Homo sapiens: one gene and its partners. The protein of the gene in region 3 purifies or fractionates together with the protein of the main gene of each other region. This does not show direct contact. Each region holds a gene or a part of one and is shown on either strand. Other genes may lie near its edges.

Region 1 (4,295 bases), on a different chromosome or scaffold from region 3:
CCTGTCTGCAAGGGACTTACAATCTGAAGAACAGAACCAAACCAGATGGGTGAGCACAAGCAGGGCTTCATGGAAACCTTGATATTTGAGATATGCCTTGAAAGCAATACAACTCTAAGGGGAAACAGAGGGTTGAGGAGGTTAGGATGAATTCTAAAAAGAAGAAAGAAAGCCACAGGCTTCAAGGCTCTTCTTGATCTGGTCTATGTGCACCACAAGTCTCATTTTCCACCACTCTGCCTCTCACCAAAGAATTGCAGGCACTGAATATTCAAGACACTGAGTTCATTACAGAAAAGGGTACAAAGGCAGAAAAGTAAAAGCACTGTTCATGGTAACTATACATATTAAGGCCTGATCTGACACACACACTCCTCCCAAAAAAAGCCAAAAATACAATTATTTTGTCTCTCTGTAAGGTCAGAAAAACAGTCTAGTAGAGTGAGAATATAAATGTCCTATTTTGGCTCAGACTAACTGAGAATGTTTGACAACAAAAGCACTAAAGACTTCAGAGTGGGGTGGGAAAGAGGACAGAAAGTCTGTCTCTATAATAGAGCAATCTGGGGAAAATAAACTGGTGAGATGGTACAAATTTGATGTAAGCCAACAGAATCATTATTCTACTACTTTATTTCAGCATCCCAAGTGTTTTCTCCAGAAGATGTGCCAAGCATCATTTCTTAAAACAACTTGCTTCTGTTCTTAATTTCTAATGCCAAACCACCGTAAAATTATAATACTGCATCCCTATCTTTTGGAAATCTTTTATAGGTAAATCTGAGCGTTTATATTACAAGATTCTCTTTTTTCCTTAGTGAATCTAAGGTAAATTAGTAATCGCTGAAAAAGTGTCTACTTTAGGAAATCATAACAATTGATTTATTCTGCTTTAGTTTGACCTTCCCTCTCTCAAGGGGGAACTCGTTTATTACTGTTACCCTGTCAATTTGTCTGTTCTGCGGGATAAGAATGGCTGACTCTCTCATGAAAAGATATCACCAAACTTTTTTTACGTTGGCCAAATTGCAAGGCTGTTTCTTTGGAGTGAATGGTAATGACAATGAAACGCAGAAAATTGCTCATTATCTTAAAACAATCTTTAAATAATATGAGAAAAGGATGTCTGGGTCAATTCCTAAAATGGACCAATCGATCCCCAAAAGGGTCTCGGGACTCATCTATGTATTGTATATGTACCTATAAGCATAATTAGGATGCTCCTGGTAAGACAAGATTTCCATCCTTTTTCTGAAACCTCTTAATTCAGGAAGCTGACAACTATCCCTGGCCCCTAAGTAATATTTTTAAAAGAAGCTAACTAATCATAAAGTTTACAAACATTCAAGTGTCAGCCCTTGGCGAGGCCTCTTTTTCATGCTTTCTCTCAAATGGAAACTTTCGTTTAAAATACAATTTTAAAACAAGACCCTCTGCAACAAAATCTATTTGCAACAGCAACAAAATCTAAGAGGATGGTCAAAGAAACCAAGGAATGTATCTGAGAGGTAACTTTTGAGCCACCCCACCACTGTATGTAATCCATACACATCTACAAACGCTGTTTTTTTGGTAATTCACATCTAGCTAATTAAAAAGCTGAGCTGTCAGCCCTCTGACTCTTACGGAATCCTTTGGAGTGTTAGCTAGTCATTGTGTGTTGGAATTAGACTAACCACTGGTTAAAGCCCTGAGGCCTGCTCATTCAGGGCCCTCTAGGTGAAAGATGAGGTTCAGGCAGATGCTTTCTTACCTGTGGAGTCATCGTAGAGGGATCTGGCTCAGGGGCGGCTTGCTGCTGTTCAGTACTCTTGTTTTTGGCCCCACTCTCCAAAGGCTCTTGCTGGACAGTTGTCTTATTTCCAGGGGGGGCGGACGGTGGTGGTGGAGCTAGTAGTTGGGATTTAGAATGGCCCTGGGAGGGGCGGGAAGGAGATGCCTGAGAAGAGGGCAAGTAGGACTGGGAATGGCTCAAATAGGATTGCGAGGAAGAGGAGGAGGATGAGTAAGAAGGGGTGGGCGCCAGGTAGGATTGGGAAGGTGGGGACTGCGAAGGGGACGGCTGAGCAGGAGGCAGGTAGGGCTGAGATGAGGTCGGGGGGTAGTAAGAGGGTGGCGGCTGAGGTGGGGGCATGTAAGACTGAGATGGGGGCATATAGGACCCAGGCGGCACAGGGGGAGATTCAGGGGGGGATTCCAGCTCCATTGGAACCAAACCAGGAGGCCCGTCTCGTTGGTGGTGGAGCATCTGGTGTTTGTACTGCTGCTGCTTCTGATAGCTGAGGGCCGGCCCGGGTGGCGGGGGCATCGGTGGCGGTGGCGGCTGCCAGTCTCCGTAGCCGCCCCCCGGCATCACTGGCGGGGGCGGCAGAGGGGGCGGAGGAAGGTGGTGGGGCTGAAGCACGCACTGCATTTGCTTCTGGTGCATCTGCTGCAGCTGCTGGAGCTGCGCCAAGTGCTGTTCGCGGAAGCTCATGAAGCCCGAGGAGGAGGGGGCCGCGGGAGTCGTCGAGCTCGAGTACCCGGGCCCCGGCGAGGCCTCAGGAAGCGCCACTGGCGGCGGCGGTGGGACCGGTGGCGGCGGATAGTGGCTGCTCCCGCCATACCGGCCCCAATTCGGGTACATATCGAAAAAGAAGGCGCAGGGCTCGTCCTGGCGCCGTTACTCGTCGCAACCGACCTCCAGGAGCCGCGGCGGCGACGGCGACAGCCGGAACTCGCGGCGCCTACAGGCCCCGGAGCGTGTAAACGGAGCGCGCCAGTGCGCCGGCGCTCCCGAGCTGGGCCCGCGACCGGGAAGGCGGGGACGCGACTTGGGCGACTACGTCTGCGCAGTAACCACCGAGAGGAGAACAAAGGCGAGATAGAGCGGTCCTTTACTTGGCGACTCGTGGTTGCCATCTTCCTTTGGGTTCAGATAATGTAGGCTCCAGTAGAATGTTCTCATAGAACTGAAAAACCATAGAGTCTCACAGCCGAAAGAGGTGGTAGAGATCCTATCGCTCCACGGGTTCATTTTTGAATGAAAAAAAAAAAAGGTTCCATTCACAATAGCAACAATCGCAACAACAACAAAAAAACATAAAGCAACTAGGAAAAACTCTAACAAGAAAGATGTAGGACTTATATGTAGAAAGCTACAGAGTCATAAAGAAGCATATCCAAGTAGGATGAAATTAGACTTCAAATAATGGAGAGGCTTACCATGATCCTGGGTGAAAAGAGGAAAAATTGTAAAGATGTCAGTTTCTCCCAAATTAAATGAATAGACCTAACTCAATTCTCCCCAGAAATTCAACTGGGAACAAAGCTGTGAAGAATGGAAAGGTGTTTTCAAGGCAGAGTGTAAGATTACACCAATTCCTGCAGACATATAGTGAGTAACATCTGCAGGAATTGTAGAAGGGGAGAAATGGAATTTTTTAGACTGTCTCAACACATATAAATCGGTGTTGCAGAATCTCAGAGCAAAAGCAAAGAGAGCAAAAACCAGATACAAAGATGGTCTAAAGACAACCTGGAAGATAATCTTCCAAAAGCTCTCAACGTAATACCAGACATAAACTCTTACTTTAGCTTGAGTGAATCACTAAAAAGCAAAGCTAATACACTGAATTCTTTTGGGTGTGTGGGGGGGGGCGGGGGGAGGGAGAACTGTGAGAATATTGTGTCAGTGCATCACTTGAGTAACATGCAAATAATTGACCTTTCTTCCATCTTAGCAACCCAGATCTTCACCTCTCTCAGGAGGTGAATGTGAATGGAAAGTGGAGCAGCAAGGCATCCTTCAAAAGGAAGAGCTTCTGTTTTCAAATAGAAATTTAGTTATGTTTCTTTTAACTTTTTATTGAAGTATAACGAATATACAGAAAATTACATGTCAAAAGACAAAATTACAACAAATTTAGTTTAAAGATCTTAATTAACTTTTACCTGCTATTCTAGAATTGGGCAACGTCTCATTCTATAAAGCAGAAACAGTGTTCCAATGAGCAGAACAATCGGGATAATTTCATAGACAGAAAAGAAACGCAGAGGCAGGGCGCGGGGGCTCACTCCTGTAATCCCAACACTTTTGGGAGGCTGAGGCAGGCAGATCACCAGGTCAGGAGATCAAGACCAGCCTGGTCAACATGGTGAAACCCCATGCCTACTAAAAATACAAAAAGTATCCAGGCGTGGTGGTGCTCACCTGTAATCTCAGCTACTCAGGAGGCTGAGGCAGGAGAATCACTTGAACCCAGGAGGCAGAGGTTGGAGTGAGCTGAGATCGTGCCACTGCACTCCAGCCTGGG
Region 2 (3,500 bases), on a different chromosome or scaffold from region 3:
CAAAAATGCCTCAGCTGCCACGGTCTCCAGCCTCCAGGTCAGTGACAGCCAGCTCCAGGAGAAGGCCCCTCCAGAGAAGCTCTGCAGCAGCACCCCCACAAACACGTCCTTCCCAGCATATCCCTACAGGGGCAGCTTCCCCACACGGGAAGGGGCATTGGCTGGCTACCATCCAGGGAGCAGTACCTCTAATTTGGGGCAATACTATAAATGGTGACTTTCCTGTTTACATTCAAAACAGCATCAATGTGAGGGCAGATGGGATCCTGTCCTGACCTTCCCAAGGCTCTGGCTTTACTAAAAAGTGTCCTTCCCTGTGGACGGTCTCTATGACACATGACAAATCCCTCCAGTGGAATTCCCAATTACCTTCAAACAAAAAAAGGTTAGGGAGGCCCACCGGTATAAGAAAAGAGCAGAGGGAGTGAGCTCATCTGGGGAGGGCGTGAGTTTATTACCGCAGATAGAACAGCACGTAGGCCTGCTGGTTCAGAACCACCTTGACGTTGCTGGAATGGACCAAGGAATCATTCATCTGGTACCACTGTCCATTGCTTGCCTGAAGCAGCCAAGGATGTTGCAGAAAACAAAACAATCAACAAGCATCCCATTATCCTCACTTTTTAAAAAGGGAATAAAAAATCTGTTAGTTGCTACATTTCCAAACACTATTAATAATCAACAGGTAACAACTTCTATTAAAACGTGTAATATTTTCATAACTCGGAATGTGACCCCAAAGTGTGCTCTGCGTCCCAGTTCCTTCCTAGTGCCCCAACAGATAGGAACTGTCCCTTCTAAAGGACATTCAGGCAGTGTCATCACCATGGCCGATTTTGCCAGGGTTCTAAGGATGGCACCAGAAGCGGCTGCCTCTTCCGTGTCTCCCTGCAAGTCTGAGAACACTAGATTCTGGTGCAACACTTCTGTAAAGGGCATCTTTTCACTCCACGCAGAGAGGCAACAACGAGGACTTGAATACAACCACAAAACATCACACTTTTCACAAAGTAAGTGCTCTACAGAGGCCGCATCTGGATGTGCATGGGTGCTGAAACCTGTCCCAGGAGGCAGCTGCACTGACACAAGCCTCTCACCTTCACGTAGCAGTAATAGTGCCCGGCATGGCAGCTGTAGCCCGAGTGCACCAGGACAGCATAGAGTCCATACATGACAGGATCACCATTATTCTGGGACATATACGGACGTATGTTGAGGAATTCCGGATAGCCTACATCCTGTTTGAAAAATCAAGGAAAAGACAAATAAAATTCACTTTGAGAGTAAAGATCAATTTGCCCTTTCCATCCACAACCACACAAAATGCCCAGCTTGTCTGGTCTTTAACAATTTGGGGGCCGGGCACAGTGGCTCACGCCTGTAATCCCAGCACTTTGGGAGGCTGAGGCAGGGGGATCACCTCGAGGAGTTCGAGATCAGCCTGACCAATATAGCGAAACCCCACTTCTAATAAAAATACAAAAAATTAGCTGGGCATGGTGGTGCACTGCCTGTAATCCCAGCTACTCAGGAGGCTGAGGAACAAGAATCACTTGAACCCGCGAGGCAGAGGTTGCAGTGAGCCGAGATCGAGCCACTGCACTCAGCCTGGGCGACAGAGCGAGACTGTCTCAAAACTGCCCCGCCACAAACAAGAAAAAGACAATTTGGGGCGAATGGGTGTGCAGCAACGCTGTGCAGGAGCTCCCCCAGGCAATGATTAAAAACCAAGATGCTGGCCAGGTGCGGTGGCTCACGCCTGTAATCCCAGCACTTTGGGAGGCCGAGGCGGGTAGATCACAAGGTCAAGAGATTGAGACCATCGTGGCCAAGATGGCGAAACCTTGTCTCTACTAAAAATACAAAAATTAGCCAGGCGTGGTGGCACGTGCCTGTAGTTCCAGCTACTCAGGAGGCTGAGGCAGGAGAATCGCTTGAAACCAGGAGGTGGAGGTTACAGTGAGCCGAGATCATACCACTGCACTCCAGCCTCGCAACAGAGCGAGACTCCATCTCAAAACAATCAAAACAAACAAACAAAGAAAAAACACCAAGATGCTGAGAAGTGAGTCTTCTCCAGCCAGCCTATGGGAAACTTTATTGTCCCATCAAGCAATGCAGGATCTGTTCTTGTCTTTGTCAAGCATCTCCATTAGTTCTCTCACCACCTGGTTCCTAACGATCAAATGAGAAGGGTCACTCATTTTCTTTCCCTCCACTTTACAGGAACATTGTTGGTGGGAGAAAAGGGAGAGAATGCTGGGTTTTAGATCTTCAGAAATAAAAGTGCTGAATTAATATAGCCAACTGCTACCGCAAGTAAGACTTTTAATCAACTGGATCAGAAGAAAGGTCATGCTAAAATGTCTTCCCAAAACTGACCAATTTTTCATAGAAAAAAATACACGCACACATATACATAACATGCATACATATATGCATACATGCACGCATAAAATACATGCACACATATATACATACATGCATACATACATCGTATACACACATGCACACATATATACATACACACACACATATGCATGCATACACATGTACGCATATACATACATGCACAACACATACATGCACGCACACATGCATACGCACACATACACACACATATACACACATGCATGCACACACATATACATACACACACATATAATACGTGCACACACATATATACATACATGCACACACATATATTCTTAGCAGTAATAGTGCCTGGCATGGCAGCTGTAGGCTGAGTGCACCAGGACAGCACAGAGCCCACATGACAGGATTGCCATTATTCTGGGTCATATACAGACGTGTGTTTAGGAACTCCGAAAAACATACGCATAATTTTTTTTTTTTTTTTTAAGAAACACAGTCTCGCTCTGTCACCCAGGCTAGAGTGCAGTGGTACATTCATAGCTCACTGTAACTTCAAACTCCTGGACTCAAGCAATCCTCCTATCTCTACCTCCCAAGTAGCTGGGACTATAGGCACGCGCCACCATGACTGGCCAATTAATAAAAATTTTTTAGGCCGGGCATGATGGCTCACACCTATAATCCCAACACTTTGGGAGGCCGAGGTGGGTGGATCACTTGAGGTCAGGAGTTCAAGACCAGCCTGGCCAACATGGTGGAACCCCGTCTCTACTAAAAATACAAAATTTAGCCAAGCATGGTGGCACACATTTGTGGTCCCAGCTACTTGGGAGGCTGAGGCAGGAGAATCGCTTGAACTTGGGAGGCAGATATTGCAGTGAGCTGAGATGGTGCCACTGCACTCTAGCCTGGGTGACAGAGTAAGACTCCGTCTCAAAAAAAAAAACAAAAAAACCAAAATTTTTTTGTAGAGACAGGGTCTCACTATGTTGCCCAAGCTGGTCTTAAACTCCCAGTCTCAAGCAATCCTCCCACCTCAGCCTCCCTAAGTGCTGACATTAGAGTTGTGAGCCATTGTGCCCAGCCTAAATCATTTTTTTAAACTGAGTTGTGGGATTTGTTGA
Region 3 (3,500 bases):
CTGTGGAAGATGTGACATATCCAGGCGGAACATCATGATGCAGGGAAACACATGGTGAGTGCCGTGATGGGAATGGCAATAGTTTGGGAGAACCGAGAGAGGAGCAGACATTGGTGCTGGGCTATAGAGGGTGGAAAGGATTTAGATACATGGGGAGAGGGGATAATGTGCTCATTCTTTCAACAGTGGGCACAATACAATAGAGGGCCATGCCCAGGGCTGGGAAGCCAGACCAGAACAGTTAATAGAAATCCCAGAGCGCTGCCCTGACAGCGCTTGCAGTTCCGAGGTGCAGGCAGACATTAAAGGTGGAATTAGGTCCTTAGAAGGTGGATTGTAATTATTGTAGGACCTGCTAAGAAGCAGCACAGAGTGTTGTGAGAGCAAGGAACCTAACAAAGCCCTAGGGTCAGTGACAGTGGTTGTAGAAAGGCCAGCAAGGATATTATTATAATAGCCATGTAAGAGGTGATGATGTGAAGTAGATGAATTCAGGAAATATTTATGAAGCAGAAACAATTGGATTTTTTGTTTATTTTTTATTAAGGGATAGTTGCCATATAAGTGACAGCAATTTTAAAGTAAATTTTTAGCTAAGGATGGGGGGTGAGGGAGGACAAGTCAGATGATTCCCTGTTACATGTCTTAAGGACTATTAATGGTGTCATTTATTGAGATAGGAAATACTAGGAAAAGAGCAAATGTTTGTCTTGGAGGGCAAGGTCATTAATTCCTTTTAGCATATGTTATGTTGAATTTGTTGGTCCAGGTCAGTGAGACACTCAAGGAGAGAGATGGGGTTGGTAATTGGCAGTGTGGGTCTGGAGCTCAGAAGTTGTGGGCTAAAGGTGTAACTTGGGAGTTTCTGACAGATTGATGTCAATTGAAGCAGTGCAGGTGAGTAGCATCACTTTGGAAGAGAGAGTGAGCAGAGTGCCTGGGCTAGACCCCTGAGGAATACCAGACGGTTAAAGGCCCCCTAGCAGAGAAGAAGCTGGTATGGGAGACTGCCAGGAGGAACAGCCAGAGAAGTAGGAAGGCCACAGTGAAGGCATCATGTCAGGAAGCCAAGAAACGCATCCATGGGGGTGGGGGCTGGGGAGGCAACTGGACTGATTGCTGCACAGAGATCAAGCAAGGTGATTGAAAATGACCTTTGGTTTTCAAGACAAGGTGGGCACTGATCATGTCACTTATTGGAGAGGTGGTGGAAGCTGAAGTCGGATTAGAGTGAGTTAGAAGTATATACACTTTTGTCTTAGCTTGGGCTGCCATGACTAAATGCTATAGACTGGGTAACTTAAACAGTAAACATTTATTTCTCACAGTTCTGGAGGCTGGCAGTCTGAGATCAGGGTACCAGCACAGCCAGGTTTCTGATGCATGCCCTCCTCCTGCCTTGCAGGTGGCTGCCTTCTTGTTGTAGTCTCACCTGGTAAGGGGTGGGTGGCAGGGATTTCTTTTCTCTTTCTCTCTTCATAAGGGTACTAATCCCATCATAATTACCTCTCAGAGTCCCCACTTCCATATAGCATCACATCAGCGTTATGATTTCATCAGCAGGAATTTTGGGATGGACACAAACATTCGGTCTGTAGCAACGTTTTCAGGTCATTTGACTGTAAAGGGGAGGACAAAGAAGGGGCAAAGTCAAGGGAGACCTGGAGGCCAAGGAAAGTACTTTATGTTGGAATAGACCTGAGCACTTTCAAATGCTGATGTGAAGGGTCTGGTATCAGGGAGAGGTGGAGGATTGCAGAGGGGGGGTGGTAATCCCAAATCTGCATTTGGAGATGGGAGTGGGGGCTGGGGAGGCAAGCCCCCTTGATCTTGTGAGGTCAAGATCAGAGGGGAACTTGAGCAAAGGCATGACAGCAAATGGTGAACAATGGGATGTTGAATTGGTCATTTTGGAAGTGGAGCAGCTTTAAGGAATGGTCGGTCCAGGGACTAAACATGGCAGTGGGCTGGGTGGCCAAGAAAGGGGAAGAGGAGTTTATTGAGCATGAGGGTTTCAGATGTTAGCAGGAACCCAGTATTAAATGGGTGGCCTATTCCAGTGGCTTGACTAGGGGGTCTTTGAGTTGCTCATCAAGATGGTCAGGCATTTATGAAACCCTGTTTACATAGTAAGAATTATTTTTTAAAAAAACTTTTCCCTTTTTCTTTTCTGCCATGAAGTCACAGAATGTCGTTCCACCCGGGACGAGGGTGTCCCCGAGGACGAGGAGGACATGGAGCCAGACCCTCAGCACCATCCTTTAGGCCCCAAAATCTGAGGCTGCTTCACCCTCAGCAGCCTCCTGTGCAATATCAATATGAACCTCCAAGTGCCCCTTCCACCACTTTCTCAAACTCTCCAGCCCCCAATTTTCTCCCTCCACGACCAGACTTTGTACCCTTCCCCCCACCCATGCCTCCGTCAGCGCAAGGCCCTCTTCCCCCCTGCCCAATCAGGCCGCCTTTCCCCAACCACCAGATGAGGCACCCCTTCCCAGTTCCTCCTTGTTTTCCTCCCATGCCACCACCAATGCCTTGTCCTAATAACCCCCCAGTCCCTGGGGCACCTCCTGGACAAGGCACTTTCCCCTTCATGATGCCCCCTCCCTCCATGCCTCATCCCCCGCCCCCTCCAGTCATGCCGCAGCAGGTTAATTATCAGTACCCTCCGGGCTATTCTCACCACAACTTCCCACCTCCCAGTTTTAATAGTTTCCAGAACAACCCTAGTTCTTTCCTGCCCAGTGCTAATAACAGCAGTAGTCCTCATTTCAGACATCTCCCTCCATACCCACTCCCAAAGGCTCCCAGTGAGAGAAGGTCCCCAGAAAGGCTGAAACACTATGATGACCACAGGCACCGAGATCACAGTCATGGGCGAGGTGAGAGGCATCGGTCCCTGGATCGGCGGGAGCGAGGCCGCAGTCCCGACAGGAGAAGACAAGACAGCCGGTACAGATCTGATTATGACCGAGGGAGAACACCATCTCGCCACCGCAGCTACGAACGGAGCAGGTAAACCGCTTGTGTGTAGTTCTTTAATGAACTGCAGAGGCCCAGGCACGGTCATTCTCCATTTATGACAACCAAACCAAAAGGATCCAGTAGGGCATCTTGATTTATGTAAGGAAAGGAAGCACATTTTGGACTCTGTTTTCAAGAGGAAGAAACAACTGACAAATAAGTTGATGTCAGAAAAAAATTGCTTTTAAAAAGCATTCCAAATATATCAGTGTAGATTCATTTCAGTGAATATAAGACTTTTACTCTGCATAATACAGTTGACATTTTAATGATGATCCCATGAGATGAAAGATCTTGTATTTTTTGTGTTATCATAGATTAAATTATGTTCAATGTGATCATCATATCAGGTTATAGCATTTGAGTTTTTTTGGAACTGGCGATCTGCGTGTTAATAAAGAATCAAATTAGTTAACAGGAAGGACTTTCTGAGTTTTAGGATAAGTAGAAATTTATTGTACATTGTTGCCTTCTTG
Region 4 (3,500 bases), about 100 Mb from region 3:
TTTGCTCCTCTCCCTGTGCTAGTTTTACTAGTAAGAGTTCTAGGTTTTTAAAACTGACACCTATTGTTCTTTTTGAAACCAATCTCTTGAAGTTTAGTGGCATACCCATTCACCAAAGTCACTGGCCTTTTCTTTGTTTACATTCTCTTTAAACTCTCCCATATGTTTAATCTTCTGCAGTACCATTGTATCTAGTTCTGTCTTTTTAATAGTGCATTATCAGTAACTCACTATCAGGAAACTCTTTCCTAACAGTGAATGTTTCGTAATATTTAGGTGTTTACTTACTGTTCTTTTCACTCTGTTGCAAACTTTTTTTTTTTAGCTCTTTGTGCAAAATCTTAAATCTGTTTCTCATCTTTACCTGGCTAAACCTGTATCTCCAGTCATGACCTTTTCCCAGTGGAGTTTACCACCATTTCTACTGACAAAGCTGCCTTCTGAATGTTTTTAATTCTGTGGGTAGAATTCTCATTTTATCATTATCTTAGTCAACGTGGGTTTAAAATTTGAAATTATCTCTTAATTTCAAGGTACAGTTAGTAGAAAAATCAGTGACCATTCATTAAGTATCATAGTGTGTGGTATGGCACATGCAATGGTCCAGGTGCTGAAGACTACTTCTTAGAAGGATTTTGTACTGTATTTGGGAAGTTATGATATTATTTATGACTTATTAATTAGTTTTTATTATAAATATTCAGTGACCATAGCCTCTTCAGCATTGGGTGGTAAAGGAAGTCTTCACAAAAGGGGATAGATTGGAGCTCATCATTAAGAATGACTAAGATTTCTCTTGGAAGACACAGATGGGCAGAGGGGCAGGGATTTGGATTGGATCAGAAGGTGTGTATAGTGGAAGAGTAATGGGCAAGATTAGATTAGGACTAGATCTAGCCAGTCTCTTAAGTCTTGGTTCGTCTTCTTTCTGAATGCTAATGATTAGAATTCATGTTTGAATAGTACTGTTGAGTTTGTAAAGCTTGTGTTAGATAGACATTAGTACTTTAATATTTCTGTGACTTAGGAACCATCATCTCTATTTTACAGAAAAGTTAATAGGCTTTGAAAAAGTGATACTAGTAAAGAACAGAATCTGGTGGGCACAGTGGCTCAAGCCTATAATGCCATCAACTTGGGAGACTGAGTCTGGTGTGTTTCATTTCCAGGCATATTTTTATTCTCTGATATCATAGATATCTATAAATAACAATTTTTTTGTTTTAAGTTTGATATAGACATCCTTAGAAAGGTATATATATTTTTACAAATTGTTTTTCTTACTCATTTATTTGATAAATGGACACTATTCTAGGTCCAGGGCATCCAGTGGTTTTGAGGGCAGACGAGACTACCTGCATACTAACATTGCATTGGGGAAAACAAAGTAAATAAACAAAGTTGATAATGTAATATCAGATTAGGGTAAATGCTATAAAAAATGAACAGGGTCAGGGGATAGAGAATGTTGTGAGAATGGGCTGTCATGCTATTTTCAATCAAGTGGTCAGGGAATTCCTCTTTCAGGAGGTGACCTTTGAACAACTGAATTAATTTGAGTGAGTATGCTGCGTTAAGTTACGGGAGAAGAGAATTTAGGGGAGAGAACATCAGATGCAAAGACCTCACATAGAAATAACCTTAGAATACTTGAGAAATGGAAAGAAGTTAAGTGTGGTTAAATGCAATTAGGTAGGATAATGGTTAAGAAATGAGTAAGGAGAAGCCAAGGGCCTGATCATGTATGATATTGTATTCAGAATTCTGGTCTTGAAGCTCCTGTCTTTTTGCCTCCCTCTTCCTTAACTGTCTCTCTGTTGCTCATACACATACTCTCTCACACATACGTACACTACCCTATCTAGCCCCCCATTATATTCTAGTGTTCATGAATCAGTCAGCCAGGCCTGTCTCTTATCTAGCCTAGGAAATGCTATGTTCATGTCTGCCTATATATATATTTTTTTGTTTGTGTGCCTTTGCCTTTGACATTTCCCATCTCATCTCAGACAACCAAACCATGGTTTTACTTCCTGACCCACATGGATTTTATCATACATCCTTGATGTAGATGCAACTGAGGTCAGCCCTTCTTACAGTTCATTTAGTACATAACACTTTATACTCTGTGACCTGTTAGTGACAATTATGCTTTCATTCTCTTTGTTATATCTCTCTATTTTAATGTGGCCAGTTTTGTTTGCCTAGGAAAAATCATCCTACATAGGGCTGGGCAAGACAAGGCACAAGGCATATCCATACATAAGGAGGATATCTTTACTTCCCTGTACCCTTCCCCACCATGGTTCCAGCATAGAAGGCTGGATAGCTGCCAGTAGTTGATCGGCATCCAGAACTGTATCTGGTACTTTAGTAGGCTCTCAGTAAGTGTATTTTGAATGAATCAGTTTATTGACTGTTGAGATTAAACCCTACTTGGCATAACTTTTTTTAAAAAGCCCCATCATGGCTATTCACAATACATGGGATGTAACAAAGAATCAATAATTATTTGTTGAGTGTATGTCAGTTTTACTTTACTCTGTGTTTACATTATCTTTATTTACTTTATGTTATTGTCTGGGCTTTAGCTGAGCACATACATTCTTTTCTGGAAAGATGCACCCCAGTCCAGAATAATATTGATGCTAGAATTTTTCAAAGACAAAGCTATAGCTTTTGGCAATTGTAGGCACAAGAAAGGAAGCATCTTTTGTTACACCATTTTTCCAAACGTTATTCTTGTTACTTTAGTAGGTATTTATCGTCTGTGGTTGGCTGTGCAGCGATCTGCAGGAGATCTTACACATTCTTTTTATTCTTTATTTAGAAATGGGATCTCACTATGTTGCTCAGACTGGACGTGATTGAACTCCTGGGCTCAAGTGAGTCTCCCGAATAACTGGGATTACAGGTGTGTGCCACTGAGCCTGGTTTTTACCAGCTTCTATCGGTGGAGTGCCTGTCACTTCCACCTGTCATCATCAGGAGCTTCTTAATGGTGCAGAACAGTGGTTTACCTGGAGCAAGCTCATTAACCAATATAAAATATCACTTAAAATAAGCCGATAGGAATTATAAAATTAGAAACTGACCCTTTTAAAATGAATTTATTCTCTTTAAATTTATTCAACATACTTAGTTTTACAAATAGATACTTGCCATTTTACTGGCAGTTATAATGATTTATTTGAGGGTTTGGTACATCTTATACAACCGTGAATACAATTTGCATCTAATAATGTGACTTCAGTAGTATCATGATTTTTGTCCAAACCTTCTCAGTCTGGGAAACATTTAAAGAGAATAATGACCTTAGAGAAGAGCTGGATTTCTTTTAAGACTTCTATTCAGATCAGGACACAATCACGTTCAAAATTGACATAGCATGTAACATGGATTTCAGTGAAGAAAAGTACTTCAGAATCAAATTTTAGAAGAGTGTTTTAGGGTTTAGTGGCCTAATCAAAGGGAGTCCAGAAGCTATTTTTGGATAATAC

Evidence for each region.
Region 1: the proteins of DROSHA (region 3) and YLPM1 purify together in Homo sapiens (affinity purification with mass spectrometry, with the first as the bait; one large-scale study listed by BioGRID). This does not show direct contact.
Region 2: the proteins of DROSHA (region 3) and USP36 purify together in Homo sapiens (affinity purification with western blotting; one study listed by BioGRID). This does not show direct contact.
Region 4: the proteins of DROSHA (region 3) and SMAD5 purify together in Homo sapiens (co-immunoprecipitation; one study listed by IntAct). This does not show direct contact.

Annotation. Positions count from the first base shown.
Region 1 is NC_000014.9:74,761,821-74,766,115, reverse strand, and holds the start of YLPM1 (YLP motif-containing protein 1), read right to left. Parts: upstream 2,801-4,295; 5' UTR 2,627-2,800; coding exon 1,754-2,626; intron 1-1,753. UniProt on the Homo sapiens protein: Plays a role in the reduction of telomerase activity during differentiation of embryonic stem cells by binding to the core promoter of TERT and controlling its down-regulation.
Region 2 is NC_000017.11:78,813,315-78,816,814, forward strand, and holds part of USP36 (ubiquitin carboxyl-terminal hydrolase 36), read right to left. Parts: intron 1,239-3,500; coding exon 1,098-1,238; intron 560-1,097; coding exon 459-559; intron 1-458. UniProt on the Homo sapiens protein: Deubiquitinase essential for the regulation of nucleolar structure and function. Required for cell and organism viability.
Region 3 is NC_000005.10:31,525,594-31,529,093, reverse strand, and holds part of DROSHA (ribonuclease 3), read left to right. Parts: 5' UTR 1-34; coding exon 35-54; intron 55-2,181; coding exon 2,182-3,015; intron 3,016-3,500. UniProt on the Homo sapiens protein: Ribonuclease III double-stranded (ds) RNA-specific endoribonuclease that is involved in the initial step of microRNA (miRNA) biogenesis.
Region 4 is NC_000005.10:136,149,845-136,153,344, forward strand, and holds part of SMAD5 (mothers against decapentaplegic homolog 5), read left to right. Parts: intron 1-2,830; exon of another isoform or gene 2,831-2,914; intron 2,915-3,500. UniProt on the Homo sapiens protein: Transcriptional regulator that plays a role in various cellular processes including embryonic development, cell differentiation, angiogenesis and tissue homeostasis.